Regions from separate parts of the Homo sapiens genome. Here region 2 is linked to region 1. The links come from fine-mapping of genetic effects on gene expression. Tissue or cell type: coronary artery. Region 1 holds a variant in brackets; the other region holds the start of a gene. All regions are shown on one strand. Distances are from middle to middle.

Region 1 (8,102 bases):
AGTTTCTACTAAAAATACAAAATTAGCCAGGTGTGGTAGCACATGCCTGTAGTCCCAGCTACTTGGGAGGCTGAGGCAGGAGAATTGCTTGAACCTGGGAGGCGAAGGTTGCAGTGAGCCAAGACCACCCCATTGCACTCCAGCCTGGGCAACAGAGTGAGACTCTGTCTCAAAAAAATTAAAAAATTAAAAAATAAGTGGGGGCCAGGCACAGTGGCTTATGCCTATAATCCCAGCACTTTGGAAGGCTGAGGCAGACAGATAACCTTGAGGTCAGGAGTTCGAAACCAGCCTGCCCAACATGGCAAAACCCCACCGCTACTAAAAATGCAAAAATTAGCCGGGTGTGGTGGCGCATGCTTGTAATCCCAGCTACTCAGGAGGATGAGGCAGGAGAATGACTTGAACCTGGGAGGCAGAAGTTGCAGTGAGCCAAGATGGTACCACTACACTCAAGCCTGGGCAACAGAGCAAGACTCTGTCTCAAAAAAAAAAAAAAAGCCTGGGATCAGGCATGGCATCTCATACCTGTAATCCCAACACTTTAGGAGGCCAAGGCAAGAGGATCACTGAGCCCAGGAATTTGAGACCAGCTTGGGCAACATAGCAAGACCCCATCTCAAAACAATTTAAAAAATAAAGAATAAGTGAACACACCATGTCTCCCAACCAGGAAAAAAGAAACCAAAAATAAGAAGATCATCCTATCTAGTTCTGGCCCCCCAAAACAAATGAAATCTTGAGCCTTTCCCTTAGTTGGCTAACTTCATAACAAAACAATTTTTATCTCTGACTTGGGCAATGCTGATATCTAAAAATTTGTCACGACTTTTATGGGTGTGATAATATGTGAGAAAATTGCTATTTTCCGCCATGAATGGACTCAAAACAAACTCAGTGACCTTGGAAGGTTTGTCGTGCTTTTTTCCTTAAATTCCTGTTGTGTTTTATTTGATAAACCAGAGTCTTTATGAATTCTGACTCTCTTGAGCTTCTTTACAAGTAAGCTCTTTCTTTTTTTCTAAATGCTATTGTCTCTGAGCCTTACTTTCACATTAAGTAATACACAGAACTATTGAGCAGGACAGAGAAACAGATTCAAGGTTAAGTTTCCATAAGGAACATCTAAAACTTTGTCAAAGAACCAGTCTGAAGTGGAGTCATGTGGCTGGCCCTGGCGTGCACTGAATGTCTGGCTCTCAGCAAAACAGCACAAACAGGAGGTTCCCAGGACGGGGAATACATCCCCCTGGAAATCAGACCCCTGCAGGCGTCAGGCAGGTGGGTGACTGCACCAAGACCCAGCACAGCCTTTGAATCCCTGTGGATGTGGATTGGAATCTTGTCTCTACCATTCATGTTACCTTAGGTAAGTCTCTTAGCCTTTCTGAGCCTCAGTTTCCTCCTCTGTACAATGGGAATAATTAGAATCCACTTCTTTGATCTACTTAGGTTTAAAGGGCCAGAAGCAAAAAAAGGCCCTCAACACACAGAACTTTGCTTCCTATCCTGAGCTTAGAGGAACCAATGTTGGGCTGGGGTCCAGGGATGGGCCACTACCCCTAAGAAGGGGCAGTTAGAAAGGATGAGGAGGGAAACAGGGCCTCATAGCGACTGAAAGAAGTAGAGCTGGGAATGGACCCAGCTGTTAGAAGTGGGAACCCTGGCCAGGCGCGGTGGCTCACGCCTGTGATCCCAGCACTTTGGGAGGCCGAGGCGGGTGGATCACCTGAGGTCAGGAGTTCAAGACCAGCCTGGCCAACATGGTGAAACCCTGTCTCTACTAAAAATACAAAAATTAGCTGGATGTGCTGACAGCCACCTGTAATCCCAGCTGCTCCGGAGGCTGAGGCAGCAGAATCGCTTGAACCCAGGAGGTGGAGGTTGCAGTGAGCCGAGATCATGCCACTGCACTCCAGCCTGGGCGACAAGAGCGAAACACTGTCTCAAAAAAGAAAAGAAGAGAAGAGAAGAGAAGAGAAGAGAAGAGAAGAGAAGAGAAGAGAAGAGAAGAGAAGAGAAGAGAAGAGAAAAGAAACGAAACGAAAAGAAAAGAAAAGAAAAGAAAAGGGAATCCCAGCAGTTGGGGGAAGGAGAGGAGAGGCTGGGGCTCTAGATGGAGGCCGAGGCCTGGTTAGCATAACTCAACCCTAGCATCAGCGGCTGACGGGCTGACAGTAGGACTTGATGCTGAGCCCAGAAGGGGAGGCTAGAACTCTTCCACATCTCCAACCTCAAGTGAGGCTTGATCCTGCACCTGGGCTCTGGCCAAGCCTACTTCCGGGCCTGATGGCCCCTGCTGTGAAAAGAGGAGGGTCTCACAGTGTTGCTGCCGAGGAAGAAAGGGCTGCCTAGGGGTGAGGGGTGAAGCCTCCCTGGGCTACATCCCTGACTCCCACTTCTGTCCGTGGTGAATGGGGATGTGGCTGTTTCCAAACTCAGCTACATTTATTATCTCTGAGCCCTGCTCCCTGAGCAGCTTTTACGTAAAGCACGACGTGACTCTGCAAATGGACAACCTTGGCCACGCCAGTGGAAGAAGTCAAGTTGCCTTTTAGTTCCAGCCTTCGCATGCACTGCCACTCCCTCTCTTCATAGCCATACTGTAGTGTGTCCTCTTTGCACCCAATGGCCCATCTTCCTGCCATTCAGCAGATGTGAGGGGCAAAAGAGGGCAGGTGTGGCAAGGCATTGCCAAGCACAAGCATGGGCCAGCGTGTATCCTCTTCCCTAATCCCTGGCTGGCCCCCTAGACCAGAGGCCTCCTTAAGGGAAAAATCACCAACATGGCCCCTGAATGGCTGCAAACTCTGAGCCAGCTCCACCCTCCCCAGCCCCAAACCCATGGCTTCAGAAGTCAGCCTTGCCTTCTGGGCCTCAAGAATATCAAAGCCACATAGCTCTTGCATGGAGGCTTGGCTTGACCTTATGGGCTTACAAAAAGCTTCCATGTTTCCAATCTTATTAAATCCTCACAGCAACCCTGATAGGTAGGCCAAGCAATAATTAACCACTGCATTGCTCAGCCAGGAAGCTAAAGCTCAGAGAGGGCAGGTGGCTTGTGCATTGCTCAGCCAGGGAGCTAAAGCTCAGAGAGGGCAGGTGACTTGCACAAGGTCACAAAGCTAGTAAGTACCAGAAGCGAAATAAACATCCAAGTCTCTGGCCTCAAGGATCACACTTTCTGTTCTCTGCTTCAGCCATGCCTTTCTAGGGGTAAGCTTCCCATCAGTCAGATGGGCAAGCTGAAAGTGTGGAGGGTCTTTCTCGGGAACTGGCATCTAGAGGGTTGCCCAAAGCCCAAGGTCAGGTCATGTGCAGATTTGTCGTCAGTGCTTTGGGCAACATGAACCACAGACCTAAAACAGTAGCCAAAATCCTTCCCCATCACAAAAAGGAGACACAGAACATCAGGCAAAGGCTTCTTTCAGTTCTCCCTCCACTTAAGCAGCGAAAAGGACACCGTGCTCCCCACCAGGCCCTCAGGTAGAGTCCAGGTTCTGCCACGTAAGTCATGTGGCTTTGGGTAAAGCAGCTCAACTCCCTGAACTCAATGTCTTCATCTTTAAAGTGGGAATGATACCTCCATCCCCAATCTCGACACAGCCCAGCTCCCTGCTTCAGACCTGGGGACTGTGGATTCTCACCGTTCCCTCTCAGGCTCCCCTGAGAAAGAGAAGGCTCACATGGCATCCCCTCCCTCCCTTCCTGATCCCCAACCTCCACCTCCCAGCCCCAGATCAAACCCAGTTTACCAGGAGCCAAAACAAGGAGCTCAGTGCAATGGAAAAATCAGCCCAAGCAATTGTCTGACCAAATTGACTTGTCAGTCACCCTGCCCAGACAGGGCCTGGGAGAATCACCTGATCTGCACACAGGAAAGAATGATTTGTAAGCGTTGAGGCCAGGAGGAAAAACACCCAGGAAAGCCCCGACACAGAGACAACAACTCAGTCTGGGTTTCCATAGCAATCCCAGGAGGAACAGGAGGAGCTCATGCCAGGATCATTCAAGAGATGGCAGCCAGCAATCACCTTGCTCCGCCATCCACCGCTGAGCCATCTGCCCCAC[G/A]TCACTGAAGCAACAGGTTCCCTCTGCAAAGCCACCAACCCACGTGCCCAATCATCCAGCCCCAGAAAAATTTGAGATCTCCCCACCCTCTCTCCAGAGTCTGCTATGGTTTGGGAGAGGAACCCTAAAGCCATGTCCATACAATAATACATGGAAAATATGTGCAATCTTTTTTTGTTGTTGTTGTTGAGACGGAGTGTTGCTCTGTCACCCAGGCTGGAGTGCAGTGGCACGATCTTGGCTCACTGCAAGCTCCACCTCCTGGGTTCACACCATTCTCCTGCCTCAGCCTCCTGAGTAGCTGGGACTACAGGTGCCCGCCACCACGCCTGGCTAATTTTTTTGTATTTTTAGTAGAAACGGGGTTTCACCTTGTTAGCCAGGATGGCCTCGATCTCCTGACCTCATGATCCGTCCGCCTTGGCCTCCCAAAGTGCTGGGATTACAGGCATGAGCCACCACGCCTGGCCAATATGTGTAATCTTAAGTAAAAACATTACATCTACATATTTGTTCTGAGAGTCTAAGAAGAAAGAGCTCAAGACAGCAGAGCTTGCCCCCCTAAAGACTAGCATGTTTTTATGGCAGACACACACCTCAAAATCAGGACCGTGAAAAGTGAGTTACAAATAACTCACTTTTCTTCCTCTGAGAAGTATTAACTACCTCTGAGATTTCAGCATTTAAAACGGTTCTTTTCCTTATGCACTTTGACTTGATCTGTCTGTAGCATTTCTTATTTGGCAATAGGTATTTCCTACACCACCTGCTCTGGAAATAATACGAAATATACTCCAGGTGTGGCAAAGTCCCTCTGTTCTGTTCCAAGTGTGTTTTTGATTGCTCGTGGTACAGGCTGAGGGAGGGAAGTTTGCTAAAAATTTGGGAAATTCAGTAACTGTCGCTGCCTCCTGCACCCGCGGTTGGGGTCTTCTCTACACCTTCTCTTCCACCCTTGCTTCTTTCCAGCTTCTATCCCTTCCTTTGGTGACCCATTGGGTCCTTCTGTTTTGTTAAGATGCTCCCGCTGGGTGCCAGCACAGGCTCTCCCCAACTCCATCCTTGCTGAGTCACAAAGTAGAAGGTGTGTATGGGAGAAACTGGGTGTGGGGTATACGGGAACTCTCTGTAATATTCTTGCAACTTTCCTATACATCTAAAACTATTCTAAACTGAAACAGTTATTTTAAAATAAAATAACCAACCAAAGAGGAGGGTGCGGGCTCTGCTCCCAGGAGCGAGGAGAAAGCGTGGCCTGGAATCCTCATTCAGAGTTTACGTAAGGCCCAAAGACACCACATCAGAGCAAGTCATAATGTTTCCCACATGAGAAAAGGTTATTCCTCCTGTTAAGACAACATTGACCTTGTCCTTTAAGAGAAACTATTCCAGCACATTGTTGTGCTAAGAAACATTTGACTCTGCATTCCCACTGTGAATGACACCCTCTCTGAGGGCATGGCACCAACTCTGACTGGCGTGTTTGTTTCAAATCTCTCTCTCTCTCTTTCTCTCTCTCTCTCTCTCTCTCTCTCTCTCTCTCACACACACACAAACACACACCCCTACTCATTATAATGGAGGGGGCAATGCATCTTGCCACATCATAAAAATTGAACTTGCATGGGGTTAATAATTATTTGAATAGTGTTACATCATAGTGTGTTATTATAATTGTTTGAATGTCTTGGATATAACAGAAGTGGAGGACCTATCACCTCGCTGAACCTGCACAACCTCTCCCTGAGGCAGGCATTGTGACCTCCATTTCACAGCTTGGGAAGCTCATTCAAAGAGGAAGGCCGTTTGCCCAAGCTGTGAGGTTAGTCCATGGTGGAGCTGAGATCCAGCCCCAGGCCTCTCTGCCTCCAGGGCCAAGACGGTTCTCCCTTATTCCACAGCTACTCCAGGCACGGTTTTCTCTTTCGACCAAACAAGACCCAAATTTCAGCAGAGACTCCTGAGACGTGCTGAGGATGGGGGAGATTCCCTGTGTCCATCATCCCAGAGCCAACGCTCTTCATTGAACAACTGTTAGAAGGAATCCCATGTGCTCAGATACATTTCACCTGATATTCTAACACAAGACAGCGGGGGCATCTTGTAGATATTGCTGAATTGGGCAGGAGAAAGCTCCTACCTGAAGTAATGTAACCAAAAGCCTTGCCTGGTTGGTAGGAAACACATCCGGGTTCAAGGAAATGCACCTGCCTGTTCTGACCACCAAGTTCTGTGTGGCCCAAGCTTCTCATCATTTAAGCATGAGCTTAAATGTCACCTCTCAGAGAGGCCTGCCCTGAGTCCCTGATCTCATGCATGTCCTCCTGTGAATCTGAATAGCTTCTAGAGCTTTTTCATAATAACAGCTACCATCATTTGTGAATTTATACTTATTGGTGAGCTCATAAGATTTTTTTTTCTTTTGAGATGGAGTCTCACTCTGTCGCCCAGGCTGGAGTGCAATGGCCTGGTCTCGGCTCACTGCAACCTCTGCCTCCCGAGTTCAAGCGATTCTCCTCCCTCAGCCTCCCGAGAAGCTGGGATTACAGGCATGCACCACCACACCTGGCTAATTTTTGTATTTTTAGTAGAGAGGAGGTTTCACCATGTTGGCCAGTCTAATCTCGAACTCCTGACCTCAGGTGATCCACCCACCTCAGCCTCCCAAAGTGCTGGGATTACAGGCATGAGCTACCATGCCCAGCCATATGCTCATAAGATTTAATGTCCTGTCCCCCCATTAGGAAAATGGACTCAGAACCTGTCTTGTTCATCCCTGTATTCGCAGGCATCCTTCTTTCCCAAAGTAAGCGCTCAATAAATATTTCAAGAAAGGCAGTTTAGAAAGCTGCCTTTCTAACACACAGAGGGTGTTCCTAATGCTTTTAACACAATGGAAGAGCAACGTACTTGAGCATGAGAGAGTCTGGAGATGGACAAAGGACAGAGAATGGAACACTGCTGCCCAGTGAGGTGGAAGCTACCCTGCAGTGCTCTGGACACTGACGTGGAGGGGAGCTGTCACGGTGACGAGGACCTTCACCTCGGGGGGAACTCACCCTCCAGGATGCCAAATCTGATAAGTCCTTTAGAGGCCTCCAATCAGATTCTGACCACACGCCACCCCTTCCAGTAACCTTGCAGACTCCAGGGACAATCATCTGCTCCTGGGGTCACTCTGTTCATTTTCCATAGCTGCTGCAACAAGTTATCACAGATTAAGTGGCTTAAAACTACACAAACTTATTAGCTTATGGTTCTGTAGGTCAGAAATTTGACATAAGTCTCACTGGGCTAAAATCAAGGACAGGACTATGGACAGGACTATGTTCCTCCTGGAGGCTGCAGGGGAGAATCCATGTCTTTGCCTCTTCTAGCTTCTAAAGGGTACCTGCATTCCCTGGCTCACGGCCCCTTCCACTACCTACAAAGCCAGCAGAGGCTGGTAGAGTCTTTCTCACAACCCATCGCTCCAACCTTCTCTTCTACCTCCCCTTTCTGTTTTTAAGGGCCCTTGGGATTGCATTGGTTTCACCAAGAACAATCCAGAATAATTTCTTCTTCTTAAGTCATCTGATTAGCAACCTTAATTCCACTTGCAACCTTAATTCCCCTTTGCTGTGTAAGCTAACAGATTCAGAGGTTCTGGGGATTAGGTTGTGGACATCTTGGGAGGGACATTATTCTCCCTGCCATAGTCAAAAATTTTGATGGCCACCACTGTCTCTAAAACCCAATGGGCTCCTGTGTACTGTGCTAACATGATGGAGAGGCCGTTTCCCTACTCACTGGCCTGACTAGAGCCCTGGCTTTCTTGGAAGCTGCCTGGGTGGCTCCCTGTGCTTTTCTAGAAACCTCCCAGGGTCCTGAGCAACCCCCTGTGTTTACTGCAATGCTGTGGTCAGCCCAGTAGCACACATCCTTGTATTTGCTTTGACTCCTTTTCTGCTTCACTTTCCCTTTTTCTCAGACATGATTCCTGGGACTTGCACCATCTTCCCCTAAATAAACCATCAGCAAGGAAACTTTTG
Region 2 (8,089 bases), 550 kb after region 1:
TCAGGTGATCCACTGGCCTCGGCCTCGCAAAGTGCTGGAATTACAGGCACGACCCACCACATCCGGCCCTCTGTTCCTTGTTTCGAAATAACTCAATTAAAAGTCAGAGGCTCACTGGCCACATCTCCTTCCACCCACCCACCGCCCCACCCCCCAAAAGATGCCTCTAGCAAATAAAATGAGACGTCCTGATGCCTTCCTGGCTCGTTCCAGAATTTTTAGCTTTGACTTTTGACGTGGGGTCCTTCTACCTAAAGTCCCCGCCGTCACATCAGCCCCCAGTTTTCCTCTGTCTTAGCTCGGGCTGCCGTAACAAAATACCATAGACTGGATGCCAGACAACAGAAATTTATTTTCTCAGTTTTGGAGGCTGCAAGGCTGTGACCAGGGCCCAACATGGTCAGGTTCTGGTGAGAGCTCCCTGGCTGCCTTCTCACAGGGTCCTCACATGGCAGAGAGAGAGGGACCCAAAGCCCTCTGGTGTCTTTTTTGTTTGTTTGTTATTTTTTGGGACGGAGTCTCACACTGCTGCCAGGCTGGAGTGCAGTGGCCCGATCTCGGCTCACTGCAACCTCCACCTCCCAGGTTCAAGTAATTCTCCAGCCCCAGCCTCCCAATTAGCTGGGATTACAGGCACCCACCACCACACCCGGCTAATTTTTGTATTTTTAGTAGAGAGGGGCTTTCACCATGCTGGCCAGGCTGGTCTCGAACTCCTGAGCCCAGCTGATCCACCCGCCTCGGTTTCCCAAAGTGCTGGGATTACAGGCGTGAGCCACTGCGCCTGGCCAGAACTCAGTCCTTACAGAACATCAGAGAATCCATACAAGGTGAGAGAGAGGCCTTATAAATGCATTGGGTGTGGGAAAGATTTGAAGGGGAGCTCACAACTTATTCAGCATCAAAGAATTCACAGTGGAAAGAAACTTTGTGAATGCAATGAATGTTCAAAGACTTGTAATCAGAGCTCACACTTTATTCGACATCATAGAATTCATAGTGGAGAAAAGCCCTATGAATGTGACAAGCATGGGAAAGCCTTCAGATGGAGCTCAGACCTTGTGAGGCATCTGGAAATTCATATTGGAGATAAAGTTTTGGAATGTAGCGAGCGTGGAAGAATTTTCAATCAGAGCTCAGGTCTAATGCAGCACCAAAGAAACCATACAGAATCATAACCCTAGGAAGACAGTAATGATAAAGATGTCAGTATGTACATATAGGAAGAGAGAAGGAGAGTTTGTTTTTGTCCTAACTATTTGGAAAATTGTAAGCTTCCTAAGAGCAATTTTCATCTGATTCAGTGTATAGTACTTAGTCTCAGGTCATGTGCAGATATGTCCTTCCCAAATGCTTACCACAAGATAAATCAGAAATCTTGACTGGAATAAGCTTCTAGTTCCTTTGCTTTATCATGAGAGGTTCCACACCACAGGAAAATCTTGTAAATGGTGGAAGCTGCATAAAGCACCATCATCATCACAAAATGGTGTCCTTGTGTGTCCTGTTTAGCAGCACCGAGAATCTAATAGCTTTCCCCTTGTCTGTTTTTCCTTACTATGAATTGTGCCAGGGGAACAGTAAAATGGGTATGATATCCTGAACTCTAGGGTGGATGTCTTTCTGGGACAGAATCTAATCCAAAAGTCTGCAAATGGACTTGAGGTTTTCACATTAGTATAAATGTCAATATGTAGTTTAGGGAATTTGCCTTATTCCTCCATTCCTAGCAAAATTAGATACAGAAGCAGCTAATTAAATCAGGAAAAGGAAACTGACAGTAAGTCATAGGACCCATTGTCTTCTCTCATGTAAAAGTAGAAGTTGTGATTCAATCTGTTCTGTAGGATTTAAAAGTATAATGGCACATTGAAGTTTGACATACTGAAATTCAGGCTCTGTCAATTTCATCTCTGTAACCTTTATTGTTTCTGAGTCTTGAGTTTTCTCATCTGTAAAATCAAGATAATGACATTAATACAATCCCTTGTGGAGCAACTGTGAAGACTAAATAAGACAATTTCATTAAGTTCCTGGCATAGTTCTAGACACGTAGTAGACATTCAACAAATGATAACTATTTTTATCCATAGCTCCTACGTGCAGTAATTATCAATGGCACTTTGAAGGAAAAAAGATAATATATCCCCCAGCCATGGGGGTGTCAATGCGCATTTTCAAGGATACTATATCTTGGAGAAACAAATTTAATAATCTGAGAATCTGAGAACTGTTACTATGGTACTACACAGTTGAACAACAATTTTTCTTGGAGAGACTAGGATTAAGCTATTTTATAAAAGTATTGAGAGACTGGATCAATCAATATCCTGCAAAATTGATAGTGAGATAAATTTATTTTTAATTAATTTTTTTTTTGAGACGGAGTCTCACTCTGTCGCCCAGGCTAGAGTGCAGTGGCACAATCTCAGCTTATTGCAACCTCTGCCTCCCGGGTTCAAACGATTCTCCTGCCTCCTGAGTAGTGGGGACTACAGGCGCCCGCCACCACGCCCAGCTAACCTTTTTGTATTTTTAATAGAGACAGGGTTTCACCATGTTGGCCACCATGTCTCAAAAAAAAAATAAAAAATAATCGGCCGGGCGCCTGTAAACCCAGCACTTTGGGAGGCCGAGACGGGCGGATCACGAGGTCAGGAGATCGAGACCATCCTGGCTAATATGGTGAAACGCCGTGTCTCCTACCAAAAAAAAAAAATTAGCCGGGCGTGGTGGCGGGCGCCTCTAGTCCCAGCTACTCAGGAGGCTGAGGCAGGAGAATGGCGTGAACCCGGGAGGCGGAGCTTGCAGTGAGCCAAGATCGCGCCACTGCACTCCAGCCTGGGCGACAGAGCAAGACTCCGTCTCAAATAAATAAATAAAATAAAAAATAACAACAACAAAAAAACACCAACCCCTATTTCCCCCATCGCAATAAAATTAACCTTAGAATTCTTTTTTCTCCTCCCCTCCCCCTACGCCCCAGGAATTGTACAGGCTAGTGGTTGGGGAATATTTTTTCGTGGAAGGGACCGTCTTCCTTAGCTGTGGCCCTCTCATCAGGTCTGGGAAGAGGTAATTGGAAAATAGAACTCATGGAGAAGTGTTACCACAGGCCATGGACAAGGCCAGAATTTCCCTGACATCTGTCCGCCAGCACCGCCCTTCAGGTACAATTCCACAAGAGACCCCCCAAACTTGATGAAGTCACCCGCTTACAAGGGCTCACTCTCCACCTGCGCAAGGACTGCAATTCCCAGGGGCCTCCAGGGCACCCGGCCGCTCCAGTCCAGTCGTGCAGGCGGCGCGCTCTTTCTCGCTCCGCTCAAGTCCAGGAACCGGTTCCCGGGCTCCCAGCCTCTCGGCAGCGCCCACGCGCCTGGGCCAAAGTCCGCGAACGGAAGCCGGCGGCGAGGAGGATTCTGGGAGTTGGAGGCCGAGGCTGCGACCTGCGCAGGCGCAAACCTGCCCCTGGGGTGAGGGCTGTAAGTGGCGCGATTCGCGGCAGCGCCCCGATGGAACCTCCTGGTCCTGTGAGGTGAGTGTTGGCGGCGGCTTCCCCGAGGTCCACCTGGCGGCTTGGCTTTTGCCCGTCCCGCAGGCAGCGGCGGCTCTGCAGTGAGCAGGCCTGGCAGGCAGCTCCGCGGTTGTGTGTGGAGAGGGGTTTGGGTTGCCCGTGGTGCCCGCGCTGCGCTACCTGCGTTGCGTCGCGTCACGTGCCGTGGAGGGGGGTCTTGATGTTCCTCTTCTCTTTTCTCGAGACCCTTGGGTAGGGAGTGAAGGGTGGGAAGGGGAGTTGTACCTGGCCTGGACGACAGCCCCCTCCCCGGGCGGGCACCTGCCCGAGGCCGGGGTAGAGAAGTTTTGCTGGGGCCAGCGGCGCCGGGCATCACCCTGGGAGACGCGAGCTCCGCGTTTTTCCTCGCGCCTCCTTTGTCTTAGGCCAGCGGTCCCCCTTTGTGCTCCTTTCGTGGCCTCTGATGCGTTCCACCTCCTTCCCTGTGTGAAAGGAAAATAAAATCTCAGGACCCCAAACTTACTATGACAAAGGGAAAAGTTAAGCTTGGAAACTGAGTCACGGAAAAAAACTGCTTTTCCTTTTGTTCCTAAACCGATAGCTGCAAGATAGAAAGCAACATATGCCCCCAGGTGGCCTCCCTCACCCTGGCAATGGAAACGAACAGCCGAGCTTCACCGGACAAGACTAGAAATCGTTCCTCCACCCACCCAGAGACAAAGCATATTTGACTTCTTCCTCTACTGTATGTCTACCTTATCTTGTGTAAAATGCAGATTTACTGAGCACGAGACAAATTCATAATTGACTTCCTCTTTTCACGTGCAACATGTGGATTCAGTGAGCTCTAATCAAATCCTCACAAGAATGTGGCCACTTACCTCACCACATACCCTCCCTCTTCTCTCCTCCTTCCCCTCCTGCCAGCTTTCTCCCCATTAAATTGAAGCCCTCAAAACCCTCTTTGGTAAAAGTGCGAGCCACGGATCCTACTGTGGCTTGTGTGTCTTTTTCCTGGGTGCATCCTCAACCTTAGCAAAATAACCCCTAAATTGGTTGAGACCTATCTCAGATGCTTTTTTGGTTTACACCTGTTAGATTTCCTTGACGCAGGCCACTGTACCCGAGACTTGTTCATAGCTGCCCCTTAATAGGGCTTTGGCATTTGAATGAGATCCAGCTCCTTAAAGGGGACTTATATTTTTCTTTTGCTGTAGCTACTACTTCAGAAATTTTTGAAAGCAGGGAGGAGCCATCTCAGAGGAGGCTGCCTCCCCAACACATTCCACCTTGCACTGAAAGCTGCTCGGCTCTGGGCTCTGCATCTGGAAACTTGGGTTTTGCTTCAAACTTATTTCTTCCAATAGTCATTTCTTCCCATAGGCCCCCAGAACTTTTTTTTTCTTGATACATTTTTCCTGTCAATGGCATTTAATTAGTTGTATTATAGAAAACCACTTTACATCCCCGTTTCTACCACGGTGCAAGTTTCTCAAAAACATTGACTTAGTGCAGCAGAATTCTGGGGAGGGGTGGAAGAAAAAGCGGGACTACAGGGCATAGGACAGGGTTTGGCTCTTTGGAGTGTTGAGTATATGTATATGTTTAATGAATGAAAAAAGAAGAGGAGGACGGGCGCGGTGGCTCATGCCTGTAATCCTACCACTTTGGGAGGCCGAGGTGGGTGGGTCACCTGAGGTCAGGAGTTCAAGACCAGCCTGGCCAATATGGCAAAACCCCGTCCCTACTAAAAATACAAAAAAATTAGCTGGATGTGGTGGCAGGCGCCTGTAATCCCAGCTACTTGGGAGGCTGAGGTAGGAGAATCGCTAGAACCCCGGGGGTGGAGGTTGCAGTGAGCTGAGATCATGTCACTGCACTCCAGCCTGGGTAACAGAGAAAGACTCTGTCTTAAAAAAAAAAAAGAGGAATGATTTCTTCTTATGTTACAGGGGGCCCTTGCAAGATTCCAGCTGGTATGAGCCTTCTGCAGAGCTAGTGCAGACTAGGATGGCTGTATCACTAACAGCAGCTGAAACTCTGGCCCTTCAGGGTACACAGGGACAAGAGAAGATGATGATGATGGGACCAAAGGAAGAGGAACAGTCTTGTGAGTATGAGACCAGGCTACCTGGGAACCACTCTACCAGTCAAGAGATCTTCCGCCAACGCTTCAGGCATCTCCGCTACCAGGAGACTCCTGGTCCCCGGGAGGCCTTGAGCCAACTACGAGTACTCTGCTGTGAGTGGCTGAGGCCAGAGAAACACACGAAGGAGCAGATCCTGGAGTTCCTGGTGCTGGAACAATTCTTGACCATCCTGCCTGAGGAGCTCCAATCCTGGGTGCGGGGACATCACCCTAAGAGTGGAGAGGAGGCTGTGACTGTGCTGGAGGATTTAGAGAAAGGACTTGAACCAGAGCCGCAGGTGGGAAGGGGGATTTGGTCTGTTATGGGAGCCAGATTGATGACCTTCAGGCTGGACCGAGGGGCAGCTGTAGGGGGAGGTGCCAAGTTCAAACCTCTCTTGGGCCAGGTAGAGCAGTTAGTATGTGTTTCTGTGTCTGTCTTTTCTGCCCTCGAGCCCTGAATGAGAAAGAGACTCTAGCTCCTCTTCTTCCCTTGTGCTGACTCTGAGGAGGCTCTCTAAAGTCTCCTTGGAAGCTTTGGTCCAAGGAGGGTCACATCTGCAAGTGTCCAGGCAGGGGACAGAAACCACACTAGTAATTTGAAGAAAATTTAAACTGAGTGGTGCCTGATCACCTCCAGGTCCCAGGCCCTGCACATGGACCTGCACAGGAAGAGCCATGGGAGAAGAAGGAATCTCTGGGAGCAGCCCAGGAAGCACTGAGCATCCAGCTCCAGCCTAAGGAGACCCAGCCTTTCCCAAAGAGTGGTGAGGAGCAGGATTCTGTGGGGAGGGAGAGGAGAAAGAGGGACTATAAAGGGCACAGTACCTAGTACCTGTAAAGGGTAAATAGTAGTAGGTGCTTAAATGTTTGGTATCATCACAGCCTTACTATTCTTATCTCTTAGGTGAGAGACTTTGCCTGTTTCATCACTCATAAAATTAGGAGTAAGAATAAACTACCTCATAAGATAGCTCTGAGGATTAAGCTCAACTTGGGTCTTATCTGGATATAAAGCCTGGCCAGCATCTCTTAACTTTAGAGAGCCCTAAATCAGGACCAGGAAATAGCTCATTCATTTATGCCTTATCATCTCCACTGCACTTAACTCCTAGTCTATAATAACTCTGCCCTGAGCTAGAGGCCAGCCTTGAGATCCTTTTTTTTTTTTTAAACTCGCTGAGGCCTCGCAAAACACTTTTTAAGCCATAAAGCACTCCTATGTGAGATACAGCCTGTCATCACCTTTACCACCTCTTCCTCATGTAAACAGCCCTATCTGAAACTCTCTTATGTGTGCCCTCACCTTCTACCCTTCAGATTCACTACAGAAACTTCCTTCTTGGCCTGCATACATACCTGCAAACAACCTCTCCTCTCTCCCAGCGGCGAACACTAGACTTAGAGCCTCAGGGGCGTGAACTCTCCTTGTTGACCTCTGTAGCCTTGTGACCGTATTGTGAATATGCGGCTAACCAAGAAGAGTCTACTTGATATTTGCTTTTACACCATAACTGCCCCCCCATCACTATCACCAAACCAAGGCATTTGAAAAATCAAATTCTTCTTAGTTACAAAATGGGAAAAAATAGAAATGGAGATTAATTAGACTCTGTCCCAAAAGTATGTTTCTACTTCTTAGCTCTTCTTTCTTCCTTGACTTTTTTCCAGACTTTTTCTTGTCTCCTTTACTTCTGTTTAGTAAGCCTCTATTCATTTATCAATTTTATTACTTTACTCTCAAAAAGAAGCTAGCTATTGTGTGATTTTTTTTTTATATATAGCAAGCATATTTCAGATTTTTTTAACCACAGCATTTAACCTGAAAAAATGAATTTTTAAAAAATCAAATGATCTTGGCTGGGCACGGTGGCTCACGCCTATAATCCCAGCACTTTGGGAGGCTAAGGCAGGTGGATCACTTGGGTCAGGAGTTCAAGACCAGCCTGGCCAACATGGTGAAACCCTGTCTCTACTAAAAATTCAAAAATTAGCCAGGTGTGATACGCGCCTGTAATCCCAGCTACTGGGGAGGCTGAGGCACGAGAATCACTTGAACCAGGGAAGCAGAGGTTGCAGTGAGCCAAGATCATGCCACTACACTCCAGCCTGGGCAACAGAGCAAGACTCTGTCAAAAAAAAAAAAAAAGTCAAATGACCTTGAGTTATCTTAAAGCAATTGGTTTCTGTTCTCCTTAGGCTATAGGGAGCATTACAACAGATAAAACATAAAATGTGCTATGGACATTTAAAAACAAAAAGGCAACACACTCTTTTTTTTTTTTTTTTTTTTTTTTTCCTTTTTGAGATGGAGTCTCGCTCTGTCGCCCAGGCTGGAGTGCAGTGGCGTGATCTCGGCTCACTGCAAGCTCCACTTCCCGGGTTCACGCCATTCTCCTGCCTCAGCCTCCTGAGTAGCTGGGACTACAGGCGCCCGCCATCAT

Evidence for each region. PIP is the estimated chance that this variant, and not a neighbour inherited with it, causes the effect.
Region 2: it holds the start of ZNF232-AS1, and the variant in region 1 is fine-mapped to the expression of ZNF232-AS1 in coronary artery (GTEx, PIP above 0.99). The same link has a PIP of 0.9 or more in left ventricle and thyroid.

The regions. Positions count from the first base shown.
Region 1 is chr17:5,653,322-5,661,423 of GRCh38, reverse strand. No RefSeq gene overlaps it. Among named protein-coding and RNA genes, the nearest start is that of NLRP1, 73 kb to the right of the region's middle. The variant G/A (reference allele first, on the strand shown) is at 4,072.
Region 2 is chr17:5,107,249-5,115,337 of GRCh38, reverse strand. It overlaps ZNF232-AS1 (ZNF232 antisense RNA 1), which reads right to left and starts at 3,403. Exons shown (of 3, transcript NR_135658.1): 1 at 3,237-3,403; 2 at 1,886-1,952; 3 at 956-1,180. It overlaps ZNF232 (zinc finger protein 232), which reads left to right and starts at 3,460. Exons shown (of 4, transcript NM_014519.6): 1 at 3,460-3,538; 2 at 5,470-5,944; 3 at 6,286-6,412. The coding sequence starts at 3,516. RefSeq lists an enhancer at 3,100-3,149.